3 linked regions of the Homo sapiens genome follow. The protein of the gene in region 2 purifies or fractionates together with the protein of the main gene of each other region. This does not show direct contact. Each region holds a gene or a part of one and is shown on either strand. Other genes may lie near its edges. The genes, in order: CCDC124, CASTOR2 and MIOS.

Region 1 (3,612 bases), on a different chromosome or scaffold from region 2:
CTTTCCGCCCATAGTGTCAAGATCATTGGCTTAATCCTCCCTGTGGCCTGCGTCTTGGCCACTGGGGTTGGCCCCATCCTCTGGATGAGGAAATTGAGGCAGAGAAGGCAGAAAGCCCAGATCACGTGGCTATGAGGAAGAGCTGGAGCCAGACTGGCACCTTCTCCTTTGTTAAGAGGCTTTTTTTTTTTGAGGCAGAGTTTCACTCTGTCGCACAGGCTGGAGTGCAGTGGCGCGACCTCGGCTCACTGCAACCTCTGCCTCCCAAGTTCAAACAACTCTCCTGCCTCAGCCTCCCGAGTAGCTGGGATTACAGGTGTGCGCCACCATGCCAGGCTAATTTTTGCATTTTTAGTAGAGATGGGGTTTCACCATGTTGGTCAGGCTGGTCTAAAACTCCTGGCCCCAAGTGATCCTTCCACCTCGGCCTCCCAAAGTGCTGGGATTACAGGTGTGAGCCACCGCACCTGGCCTTTTTTTTTTTTTTTTTAGACAGTCTCTGTTGCCCAGGCTGGAGTACAGTGGCGTGATCTCAGTTCACTGCAACCTCCGCCTCCTAGGTCCAAGCGATTCTTTTGCTTCAGCCTCCCAAGTAGCTGGGATTACAGGCATGGCACCATGCCTGGATAATTTTTGTATTTTTAGTAGAGATGGGGTTTCACCATGTTGGCCAGGCTGGTCTCCAACTCCTTACCTCAAGTGATCCGCCCACCTCGGCCTCCCAAAGTGCTGGAATTACATGCGTGAGCCACCGCCTCTGGCCTGTTAAGAGATTTGATTAAGGGACAGCAAAGCATGCCTGTCCTAGGAGTGTGGGTCAGAAAGCATGTACCTCTGAGCACACCTGTATTGCATGCATCCGGGACAAGGTATGGAGGGGGTTGGACAGGCAATTGGGGCCAGGTGGTGAATAGCTTAGACTTCACTTAGGGCCAGACAGGAAGCCACTAGACCCTATCATTGAGCATGAAGGCCACCACTGACAGTAGGTTAGCAAATAGGTGTGGCTGCATGCCCATAAAACTTTACCAAAGGGGCCGGGCATGGTGGCTCACACCTGTAATCCCAACACTTTGGGAGGTCAAGGCAGGTGGATTACAAGGTCAGGCGTTCGAGACCAGCCTGGCCAACATAGTGAAACCCCATTTCTACTAAAAATACAAAATATTAGCCGGGCGTGGTGGCGGGTGTGCGTAATCCCAGCTATTCCGGAGGCTGAGGCAGGAGAATCGGTTGAACCTGGGAGGCAGAGGTTGCACCATTGTACTCCAGCCTGGGCGACAGTGCAAGATTCCACCTAAAAAAAAAAAAAAAAGGGCCGGGCGCGGTAACTCATTCCTGTAATCCCAGCACTTTGGGAGGCCGAGGTGGGCAGATCACAAGGTCAGGAGATCGAGACCATCCTGGCTAACACGGTGAAACCCCATCTCTACTAAAAATACAAAAAATCAGCCGGGCATGGTGGCAGGCACCTGTAGTCCCAGCTACTCAGGAGGCTGAGGCAGGAGAATGGCATGAACCCGGGAGGAGGAGCTTGCAGTGAGCCGAGATGGCGCCACTGCACTCCATCCTGGGCGACAGAGCAAGGTTCCGTCTCGAAAAAACAAACGAACGAAAAAAACACAAAAAACCTTTACCAAAGAAGGCAGTTGGCTAGTTGGCTATAGTTTGTCAACCCCTGCTCTCTAGAATATTCTCAGCCCCCGTGAGTTTCCCTCATACCCCTCCTGGTCAGTCCCCCACCAGTGATACCTCTCCTCACTTCAAACATCATGCATTGGCCAGGCACAGTGGCTCACACCTGTAATCCCAGCACTTTGGGAGGCCAAGGCAGGCAGATCACTTGAGGTCAGGAGTTCGAGACCAGCCTGGGCAACATGGTGAAACCCCGTCTCTACTAAAATTACAAAAGATTAGCCAGGCGTGGTGGTGGGCACCTGCAGTCCCAGCTATTTGGGAGGCTGAGGCATGAGAATTGCTTGAACTCGGGAGGCAGAGGTTGCAGTGAGCCGAGATCGCACCACTGCACTCCAGCCTGGGCGACTGAGAGAGACTGTCTCAGAAAAAAAAAAAAAAAGGACCCTGTCTGAGGCAGAATGTGTGTGTGACACGCATCGGTCGGGGAGCCTCGGGACGTTGCCTCTGACCGAGGGGGAAACTAAGGCTCCTCAGCACAGCAATGGGAGCCCAGTTTGTGCACTCCAACAGCCTTGACTTTAACCGCCCCCTCCACTTTCCTGCTGTGCTGGTGGGGGTGGGGGTCAGGCCCTGGCAGTGTCCTTAGGTGCGTCCACCCCTATTCTGCGACATTCCCTTCTGTCAAATCTATCTGGAGATGCAGTGGTAGTGTCCCAGGGGGACACTGCAGGTGTGGGGATCGTCCCTGGGAAGGCTGAAGGTGTGAGAGTCAGATGGTGGAGTCTCAGGCAGTGAGGGGGCAGGCAGGGGTGTCCGAGACCAGGGCCCTGCAGGAGTGCCAGGCAGTGGGCAGAGTACTGCCCTGAGCTTCCAGCAGCACTGCATATAAACCGTGGGCTTGCTCGGCCCCCTGGGGTCCGTGCAGGCCAGGGCAAGGGCAAGTCCCGTAGCCCAGATGTCCCTCATCCAGCCAGCATCAGGGCTTCCCTGGGCGGCCGATGTGGAATCAGTTTCAGCCTCAGTGACCCACGGCAGGGAAACGTGGACAGTGCTGCCCGACTCATAAGGGCAGAGCCCCTGCCCTAGCCTGAAACGGGTCCAGGCCTCCCACGGCTCTTAGAATCCAACATGAACCCCTCCCTGGCCCCCAGAGGCTCCGCATGGCCCAGCCGTCTCCCTCCCGGCCTCTTCCCCCTCCCGCTTCACTCCCACTCCAGCCTCCAAGCTGTTCCTGTTACAACAAATGGCTCCTGCCTCGGCGCCTTTGCACTGGTAGCCCTGCTGCTAAGGACGCTCCTGTTCCCCAGCTCTCCCCCTTGGCCGGCGCTCTTCGCACCTAGGAGCGTCACTTCTTCAAGAGCCACCCACCCGCCCTGTCCAAGGTTCCCCTGTTGGCCTCACATCCCCCGCCCAGGGCAGCACCGGGACCTATCTTGTTCCTGGTATGTCCCCTGCACCCAGCACAGAGCCTAAATCCTCGTTGGCTGAGATGAAAACTCGAACCCCAGGCTAGTGGGTGGCGCGGGGGTGTGGGGTCTTCTGCCTGACCATGCACGCCGCCCCCGCAGGAGGAGAAGGAGAAGCGGCGCCTCGACCAGCTGGAACGTAAGAAGGAGACGCAGCGCCTACTGGAGGAGGAGGACTCCAAGCTCAAGGGCGGCAAGGCGCCGCGGGTGGCCACGTCCAGCAAGGTCACCCGGGCCCAGATCGAGGACACGCTGCGCCGAGACCATCAGCTCAGGGAGGCCCCGGACACAGGTCGGGCGGCATCCCGCTCTGGAGCTGCACTTTTGCCCACTGCAGAGGCAGTGGACCTTGAGTCCATTAGCCCCCTCCTGGCCCCCAGAGAAGCTGCCGGGGCTCCACGTGGTGCAGGGTGGGTGGGTAGGCCGCCTCCTGGTAGGCCTGGCCGTGAGCAGACAACCTCAGGGCTTGTGCCCCGCGGGGTCCTCTTGTTTGCAGGGCTGCCGGAAA
Region 2 (4,307 bases):
AAGAGCAAAACTCAGTCTCAAAAAAAAAAAAAAAAAAAAAAAAAAGTAAACAGGTGGCACAGGGACCCTCAGGGCATGCTGTGCTAGTCTGGGCTAAACTTAGGTTTTGGAGAGGGAAGTGACAGAGCTATGGGTCACCACCTGGGGGCAGGGATTGCAGGAACAATCTAAGGGGTTCTACCTGGATGGCTGATTATTGAAAACAGTTTAAATGCTATGTCGGCAGGCTGCGACCCATTAACACTTGCTAAAAAGCCATTTCCCACAATCGTCCCACACCATCCACACAGCAGTTCTGTGTCCATGAGGGGGCCAAATAGTGCTATCTCTATTTTACAGACGGACGAAGTGTGAGCCAGAGGAGACAGACTTCGCCTCAGCCAGGCAGGCAGGGGGCTGTGGTCACACATGACCTGAAGCCATGATCTGGGCTCAGAGTGCATGGGGTGGCAGGTCCTCAGGCATTTGACAAATGTTCCGCACCTTCTGAGGCCGGACCATGGAAACACAGCGATGGCCTTTGGCCTCTGAGTCATCTTGAAACTGGACTAGTCAGCTGGGTCACCTGGGCCTGGGACAGGACAGGCTGCTTTCTGCAGGAGGGAGGAAGGGGGACCCACTGAGGGACAGGTCTTCTTGTGTTCCCAGAGGCCAGCAGGGGGGCTTGACCCCAGAGACACGCCTATCCATGAGTACCCAAAGGGGATCCTGAGTTGGGGGCTGGAAGAAGGCCAGTCTCTCCACCAAGGGAAAGGGGCTGAGGGACCCTGCCCTTTGCTGCCTTTCTAAGAAGCCCCCAAATGCCCCCGCTTCCAGCACCCAGGCCCTGTGCACAGCCGCAGCCTGAGTCATCATTCTCATTTGAATGGTGGCCGAGAAATCAGCCAGGGGGCTGCCCAGGGCTGAGGGCCAAGGCTAGGAAAAACAAGGCTGTTCTGTTACCTCCAAGCTTTGGAACGTCAAGCCCGGCTAGGGAGTGGGGGGCAGAGGGCAGGCAGAAGCAGGATCTGAAGGTGTCAACAGCCAGAGGGGGCTTTGTGTGAGGGGTGGGGGCGCGGTTCAGAATCCGAGCTGTTGGCTTTTGTTTTCAAATGACCTGTTTAATCATTACCCTTTGCAATCAACGGGGAGCACAGGCTCCGTGGCAGAGGCTTGGCGACTATTTCAAATCTCCATCCCCTACTGAGCAGCCGGAGAAGAAAGTAAACAAGATGCCACCGGCAGGTCTGGCTCCATCTCGCAAACAATAGCCGGACTGAGCACCCGGCTCAGACACACACATCAAAGTGAGATTTCCAAGCAAGAACTTTTCACAGGCAGATAACAGGCTGGAATTATTTCCCTGTGTCCCTAGAGCTCAGTGCCAAAGGGGGCAGCCTAAGGGGGCTGTCATTTTCACGCTAACCTTGACCCGAAAAGTATTCATTCATTTTGCAGTGAGGGAGAGCCACCACCGCCCCAAACCGCGAAAAACCAACCAGTAACAACTTTATCATTCCTTTTTAACAGTCACAATGGTGGGCAAATGAGACTTAAGTTACAGCAGCTAGCTGGCACTCACACTCCCCTCGGCTCAGGCTCCTTAAACAACAACAACAAAACCCTAATGCAAGCACCCACCGGGGCTCACAATGTCAAACCCTTACCTGGCATAGGGAAAATCCAAGTGAGAGAGAGAGAGAGAGAGAGAGAGAGAGAGTGTGTGTGTGTGTGTGTGTGTGTGTGTGTGTGATTCCCTCTTTTACCTTCCAAGGCCTTCAACTATTTTTCCCCCTGCAGCATCCAAGCCCAGCCTCAAGGCAGATGCATAAACATGCCTGCTCCTCCCCTTCTACGGTTGGGCAAAACACCCCCCCACCCCCTTTCCAGGACCCCAAGGAGAAAGAATCACGTCCTCTGCAGCCCCTCCCTGGCCCTCGCCCACCCCCCGTTTCCCCCCCGCAATTCCAGGCCGTCCGCAGCAAGCCTCGTAGGCACCTTGAGATAAACACCCACTAATGATTTTATGATTTTCTGCTCTGGGTAACCGCGCTCAGCGGAATCCCTCCCCCCGCCGTGGCGACGGGGCCGGCCCAACCGAGGGATGGGGGGATGGGGGCGTTTGTTTTTTCCACGGCCTCGTCCCCACACCTGTTTTTCATTCATTCATTCGTTCGTTCCTTCATCCATTCACGGATCCGTCACTGCAGCCGCCCCAGCCCCCCGGATTTCGGGGAGGGGGCTGCGATGGGGGAGGGGGTGGGAGATGGGGGGGACGACAGAGGTGGGGGGTGGCGCACCGGGGGGTGGAAGGTTGCGAGGGGTCCGGGAGCCAGGACCCTGCGGCTCCGGCTTTGTCAGACGCGAGCGAAGCGGCGGCGGGGGCGGGGCGGGGGCGCTCCCGGGGCCCGAAGTTGTTTTCCGAGGCGCGGCGGCGAGGACAGCGGCCCGGGGTGCGCCCCCTTTGTCTGTCCCCGGCCGGCGCCGCGTCCCCGCGCGCTTACCTGGTCTTGGAGGACAGGAAGGCAAGTTTGATCAGGCCGTAGGTGAACAGCGGGATACTCTCCTTGGCGACGCTGGCAACTTGCAGCCGGTGCTCCAGGATGTGGAGTTCCATCGTCCGCCCGCGCCCCGTCCGCGGCGGCTCATCCGCGGGGGGACGAGCCGCGGCCCCCGCCCCCTCCGCGCCCTGCCGGCACCGACAGCCGGCCCGGAGACCCGGGAGCTCGGCGCCGGGCGCGGGGGGCGGCGGCGGCCGGGCCGGGCCGGACAAAAGGGAGGAGGCCCGCCAAGTTGCAAGGGGGAGCCGCGGGGCGAGGGAGGCAGCGCCGGCGGAGCAGCAGCCGAGGGGCCGAGCGGCGGAGCAGCGGCGCGCGGCGCCCGGCGCGGGGAGCAGCTGGTGTTCGCTGTAACAAACAACTTGCCACTCAAACGCCGGTCCCCGCTGCGCATGCGCGGCCCGCGCGCGGCCTGCCGGGACTTGTAGTCCGCCTGGGGGGGGGCTCCCCCGGTGCTGTTGCTGCTGTTGCTGCCGCGGGGGCTGGGCGGCCGGAGCTACCGGCAGCCCGGTGCACGGGAAATGCAGGAGCGCGGGCACCCTCAGGACTAAGGGGAAGGCCGAGGGGAGGCACGGGGCGGGTGGAGCCAGCCTGAGCCTAGGCGCGCCCTCTGGCACCCAGTCAGGCTCGGTACTAGGTGCTTGGAGTGTAAAGCGAGCAAACCAGACGACTCCGGTGCTGGAGAAGGCCCGAGTCTGGGAGCGCCAAGATGTAGGGCAATCGGTCATGAGAGTGCAGAGAAGCCAAACCGAAAAGCTTGCTGGGGACCCGGAGGGAGGGGATTGACAGGTCAAAGGGGGTGACCCGGGGGAGGGGACACTCAGGCTGGGTTTTGAAGGATGAATGGGAGTTCGTAGCAAGAGAGTGAGGGCGCGCGGATGGAGGACAGAGGCCTTCCAGGCTGCAGGAACAGCGTGTCCTAGGGCACAGAAGCGTGAAAGCCCCCACGGTGCTGTGTTTGGCTTTGTTGCAGCGGAAAATGTGAGGGAGGAGAGAAAAGAGATAAGGCAGGCATAGTCACCAGGAGTCAGGTCGGGAGGGTCATGTGTGCAGAGCTAATGAGGTGGCCATTTATCCCACTGGAGAGGGGGTGATGGGGACTGCGAAGGGTGAATTCGGGGAAAATGTAAAGTGCGTCTGAGGCACTTCCAACCCCAGGGCCCACGCGCCGGGACCACAGAGGTTCCTCCTTCATGGCTGTCTGGTTTTGAAATGTTCTGGGTTAAAGTGATTGGTGCTTCCACCTTTGGCAGAGTAATCTGGGGACGCGATGGGTGAGATCTATCTGCCAGGGCAGGCTGAGAACTCTCTTTCAGGGGAAAATTGCAGTTGTGCTCCCTCACCTTCCCTCAGCCCTCCTCTGTTAGGTAGGAACATACTAGGTTTTGTCATTTCCACAAAAGGGTGAAAAGCCTGTAATCTGTGGTAGATAGATCTTAGAGCATGCATATCCCCCTCCCACTTTATTTTCTTTTACTCTTTTTCTTTTATTTATTTATTTTTTAGAGACAGGGTCTTGCTCTGTTGGCCAGGATGGAGTGCAGGGGCGCAATCATAGCTCACTACAGCCTCGAACTCCTGGGCTTAAAAGATCCTCCCACCCCAGCTTCCCCAGCAGTTGGGACTACAGTTATGCCTGGCTAATTTTTTTTTTTTTTTAACTTTCTTTTTTCCCCCCCGAGATGGAGTCTTGCTCTGTCGCCCAGGCTAGAGTGCCATGGCGCGATCTTGGCTTACTGCAACCTCCTCCCCCTTGGTTCAGCGATTCTC
Region 3 (4,117 bases), about 67 Mb from region 2:
CCCTTTAATCATCCATCTCTGTCTCTTCTACTGGATTATACACTCCATGAGAGCAGGTGAAGTATTTTTGGTGTTCCATTGTACCTCTAGTCCCCAGTACAGTGCTAGGCACTTAGTAGGAAGTTAATAAACATTTGTTAAATAAATGCATGTGCTGAATGATCCCTCTGACACTTCTCACAACTGCTATCTCCAAGTTTTACCTATTTCCTCATGCTTCCACTTCTACGCTCCCTAGGAGAGGCTGGCTCCGGCCAAGATTTAAATGTCTGCTATTATACTTTCATTTATTCTGTGACTATTGATTGGGCACCTTCTATGTTCTAGGCATGGTTATGAAGCTGGGAACACAGCAGCAAACATGAGCCGATGAAGTCTCTGGTCTAAAAAAAACCTGCACTGTAGTGATAAAATTAAGTCCAACCTTAAAAAGAGTTTCAAAATTTAAGAATGAGGAGGAAGAGGGGCACCTCACGTAACAGGAAGCAGCTACGACAGCAAAGAGGAACAGATACTGCCAAATAAGGGTTCATACTCATACCCCCACAAAGGAAATCTCTTAATTGGAGACATCATGAGATCTGGGCCATTTTCCCATCTCATTGAAAAATCAATGTTTAAATAAACACACTTTTTATCTAGGCTTTCATTCCACAACCCGACTCTTTATACCAATGGTCTATGGTAAGCAATCTTGATGCCACAAAGAAAAATCCATCTTACAAAACATAAAATACGAGTTTTAGCATAAAATTTAAAACTTTGATTTACATGACTCTCAACGGAGAATATCAGCATTTCTTCCCATGTTATGCACCTAAAATACTTCTATTGCCATCCACAAAATCTGATGACAGTAATTCATACAGAATCAAAACTTGAGAGAAAAAGACTAGCTAAATCTTCTAATTTCACAAAGGAGTAAAGTGAAGACCAGATGTTTGGGTGGTTATCCAAGGTCTCTCAACTTCCGTCCTAGATTACTGCAAAGAAAAGGATCAGCTACACGATATGCAGGACGTGGTGCAAAATAACAATGCAGGGCCCCTCATTTAAAAATTATTTACAATGTCCAGACAGTGACAGCAGACTGGCCATTAAACTAAGTGCTAGCCATTCTAAATGCTGGGCTCTGTGCTACTGCACAGGTTGCACATCATAAGAGTAGCCCTGTATAGAGAGGTGCATCTATGTCCACCCTTTTAAGAAGTGTATTTTTTTTCACCATGTAATATACAGGATAAACAGTTCCTTGCTCATGAACATACATCACCAAGAATCTGGTGTAAAGAAAACAATCTAGAGTCAGAAATCCTACAGCCACTCCCCAGCTCAGATCCTAACAAATCTTGTAATACTCCAAAACCATAAAACCGAGATAAAATCTATCCCATTTCCATCTCACAAAGCTGTGACAATCAACTGAAATGAGCTCTTCACATCACACAGATGTTAGTATTACTACCATTCCCTTAATCAGCCCTGAAAGTTAATGTTTTTTCCAAATTTTGGAGACATTAAAAAATTAGGTGTAGAAGGGGTGCGGTCTGCAATAATTACAGCTTGTATTTATATCCTCACCTTTCAAGTTTAACAAGTCTCACTTCCCATCAGTGATTTCTCAGCAAAGGAAAGCCATGCTGATTCTGTGTTCATTCACCAGAATATTTGCAACAGCACTGTCCAAAAGAAATACAGTGTGAGCCATATGATTTAAAAATTTCTAGTAGCCACATTTAAAAAGTAAAATTAGGTGGAATGAAATTTAAAAACACATTTTATTTAGCCAACATATCAACAGCATTATCCTTTCAATATGTAATCAATGCAAAAATTATTGAGGATTTTTACGTTTTTTTGGCACCAACTCTGGGAAATCCGATGTGTATTTTACACTTATAGCACATCTCAATCCCATGTGGCTACTGGACAGTGAAGTCCAACACATTAAAATACTACTCAGTGTACAAAGGATCCAACCACATGCTTTTTGATGTTGTCTTTTACTTTTCTTACCGTGGCAAATTACGAGAGCGGTTTCAAGAAATTTCCACCATCAGCATCTTCGAGGAGATGCACTGCACATATCCAAATTTCCCTTAAAATATACAAAAGGCCTGCAGTCATTTGCTAACCTATTCAGCAAAGTCCACAACATGTGTGAGGTTTCATTCATCCTCTTAATTTTCATTACTCATATGAGAAGAGAACAGAGCTCACCGGGAGACAGGCCGTTTAAGAAGTATAGTATTTAAGAGGGTACAACGGGAACAGGGCACGTTGCTATTCTAGGTAAAGCAGGAATCTGAGTCCGACTCTCCCGCTCCAGGCACCTGGCTGAGCCTCCCGGGAAAGGCTGGGACGCCGCTCCCCACAAGCCCGCCGCGGCGAAGGCTGTAGCGTGTTCCCTGCGCCCCGAGGAGGTCTCCGCAGGTCCCACGGCCGCCCGCAGCCCCCGGTGGCTCCCGCTGAGGCCCGGCCAGGCGGCCGGCCGCCCGGCGCGATTACCCTACAGCGCGGAACGCGCTCCCCGCCGAGACGCCCGGGCCTTTCAACTAGGCTATCTCCGGCCCCTCGCTGCGGCCGCGGCGCTCCCGAGAGTCGAGACGCGAACCGGGTCGCGCTCACTGACCTGAGGTGGCAGCGCGGCCGCCGCACAGCCGCTTCCGGCCGGGACACCGCCCCGCCCGCCGCAGGAGCCCGGACGCGGGCAAGATGGCGGCCGCGGCCGTGCGGCCCGTGACCTGGACCACTGGGCTGGGACCCACGACCCCACCACCACGCCTGGAGGACGCGCAGCGGCGCCTCGGCCTTGGAAGGGGAGTTTCCCAGCGCGAGCCCCGCCCTTCCCCGCCCGGGAGGCGCCTCGGGGCGGGGTCACTGGCCGGGAGGCCCCGCCTTCCGCCCGAAAGCGCCGGTGCACCCCGCAGGCCCTGCCCGTGGGTCCACAGGCCGGATCCCCGGGTTCCTAGGCTGGGACTGCTTCTCAGAACCACTCTGTCGTTTTTAAGCAGGGTCACACACTCTAGCTCACTGGGTCCATTTTAATTTCTATTAAACATTTTTTTTTTTTTGCAAATGATGTAGTAGGAGATCCAAGGTGTTTGGTTAATGATTTATTCACTCATTAGTCATTCCACAAACTTGTCTTGAGCACCTGTTATGTACCCAGCACTGTGCTGGAATGCTGAGGAGACAGGAGTGAAGTAAAAAGACATGGTTCCGGCAGGAAACAGGCAAGGAGAGCCTTGACTTGGTAGGGCTAACACAGTGCTACACAGGAGGGACGCCCGCTCGGTGTCGGGGGTCAGCAAAGCTTCCTTAAGGACCACTAGGTTGAGACAAGAAGGATGAGTATGGGATTAGCCAGGAAAGGGAAAAGGGCAGTGGGAACTGGAAGAGAAGAGCCTTCTAGGACTGGGAAAGAGCAAGTGCCGGGTCAGGAGAGAGGACATAGCAGTGAGGAGGCAGTAGGTATGGATGAATGAGCAGAGGAAGTGGGGAGAGATTAAGGTGCTTTCAGAAACGGGTTGGAAACCAGTTTAGTGAGTTTGGATGGCATTTACCTAAAGGCAATGTTAGAGTCATCGAAAGTTTTTAATCAGGCAAGTGGTATGATCAGTTTTTTGTTTTGTTTTGTTTTTTTTGAGACGGAGTCTGGCTATATCGCCAGGCTGGAATGCAATGGCGCGATCTCTCCTCACTGCAACCTCCGCCTCCCGGGTTCAAGCGATTCTCCTGCCTCAGCACCTCGAGTAGCTGGGACTACAGGCGCGCGCCACCACGCCCAGGTAATTTTTTGTATTTTTAGGAGAGATGGGGTTTCACCATGTTGGCGAGGGTGGTCTCATTTCTTGACCTCGTGATGCGCCCACCTCGGTCTCCCAAAGTGCTGGGATTACAGGCATGAGCCACTGTGCCCGGCCAGTATGATCAGTTTTTGCGCAGAGAGCTGGAGGGATAGAGTATCAGAATGAGGGATGATAGAAACGCAGGTTACCAGTGGCACGGAGAGTGGGCATGGAGAGAAGTGGGGGCCCTGGGGAATACTTAGAAGGCGGGATGAACAGAGCTTGGTGACTGACCAAGTGAATGACGGTGAAAGAGGATTCCAAGT

What was found.
Region 1: the proteins of CASTOR2 (region 2) and CCDC124 fractionate together in Homo sapiens (co-fractionation; one large-scale study listed by BioGRID). This does not show direct contact.
Region 3: the proteins of CASTOR2 (region 2) and MIOS purify together in Homo sapiens (affinity purification with western blotting; one study listed by BioGRID and IntAct). This does not show direct contact.

The regions. Positions count from the first base shown.
Region 1 is NC_000019.10:17,939,450-17,943,061, forward strand, and holds part of CCDC124 (coiled-coil domain-containing protein 124), read left to right. Parts: intron 1-3,206; coding exon 3,207-3,396; intron 3,397-3,612. UniProt on the Homo sapiens protein: Ribosome-binding protein involved in ribosome hibernation: associates with translationally inactive ribosomes and stabilizes the nonrotated conformation of the 80S ribosome, thereby promoting ribosome preservation and storage.
Region 2 is NC_000007.14:74,963,275-74,967,581, reverse strand, and holds the start of CASTOR2 (cytosolic arginine sensor for mTORC1 subunit 2), read right to left. Parts: upstream 2,878-4,307; 5' UTR 2,597-2,877; coding exon 2,484-2,596; intron 1-2,483. UniProt on the Homo sapiens protein: Functions as a negative regulator of the TORC1 signaling pathway through the GATOR complex. As part of homodimers or heterodimers with CASTOR1, directly binds and inhibits the GATOR subcomplex GATOR2 and thereby mTORC1.
Region 3 is NC_000007.14:7,565,588-7,569,704, reverse strand, and holds the start of MIOS (GATOR2 complex protein MIOS), read right to left. Parts: upstream 2,822-4,117; 5' UTR 2,633-2,821; exon of another isoform or gene 2,099-2,632; 5' UTR 2,017-2,098; intron 1,680-2,016; 5' UTR 1,582-1,679; intron 1-1,581. UniProt on the Homo sapiens protein: As a component of the GATOR2 complex, functions as an activator of the amino acid-sensing branch of the mTORC1 signaling pathway. The GATOR2 complex indirectly activates mTORC1 through the inhibition of the GATOR1 subcomplex.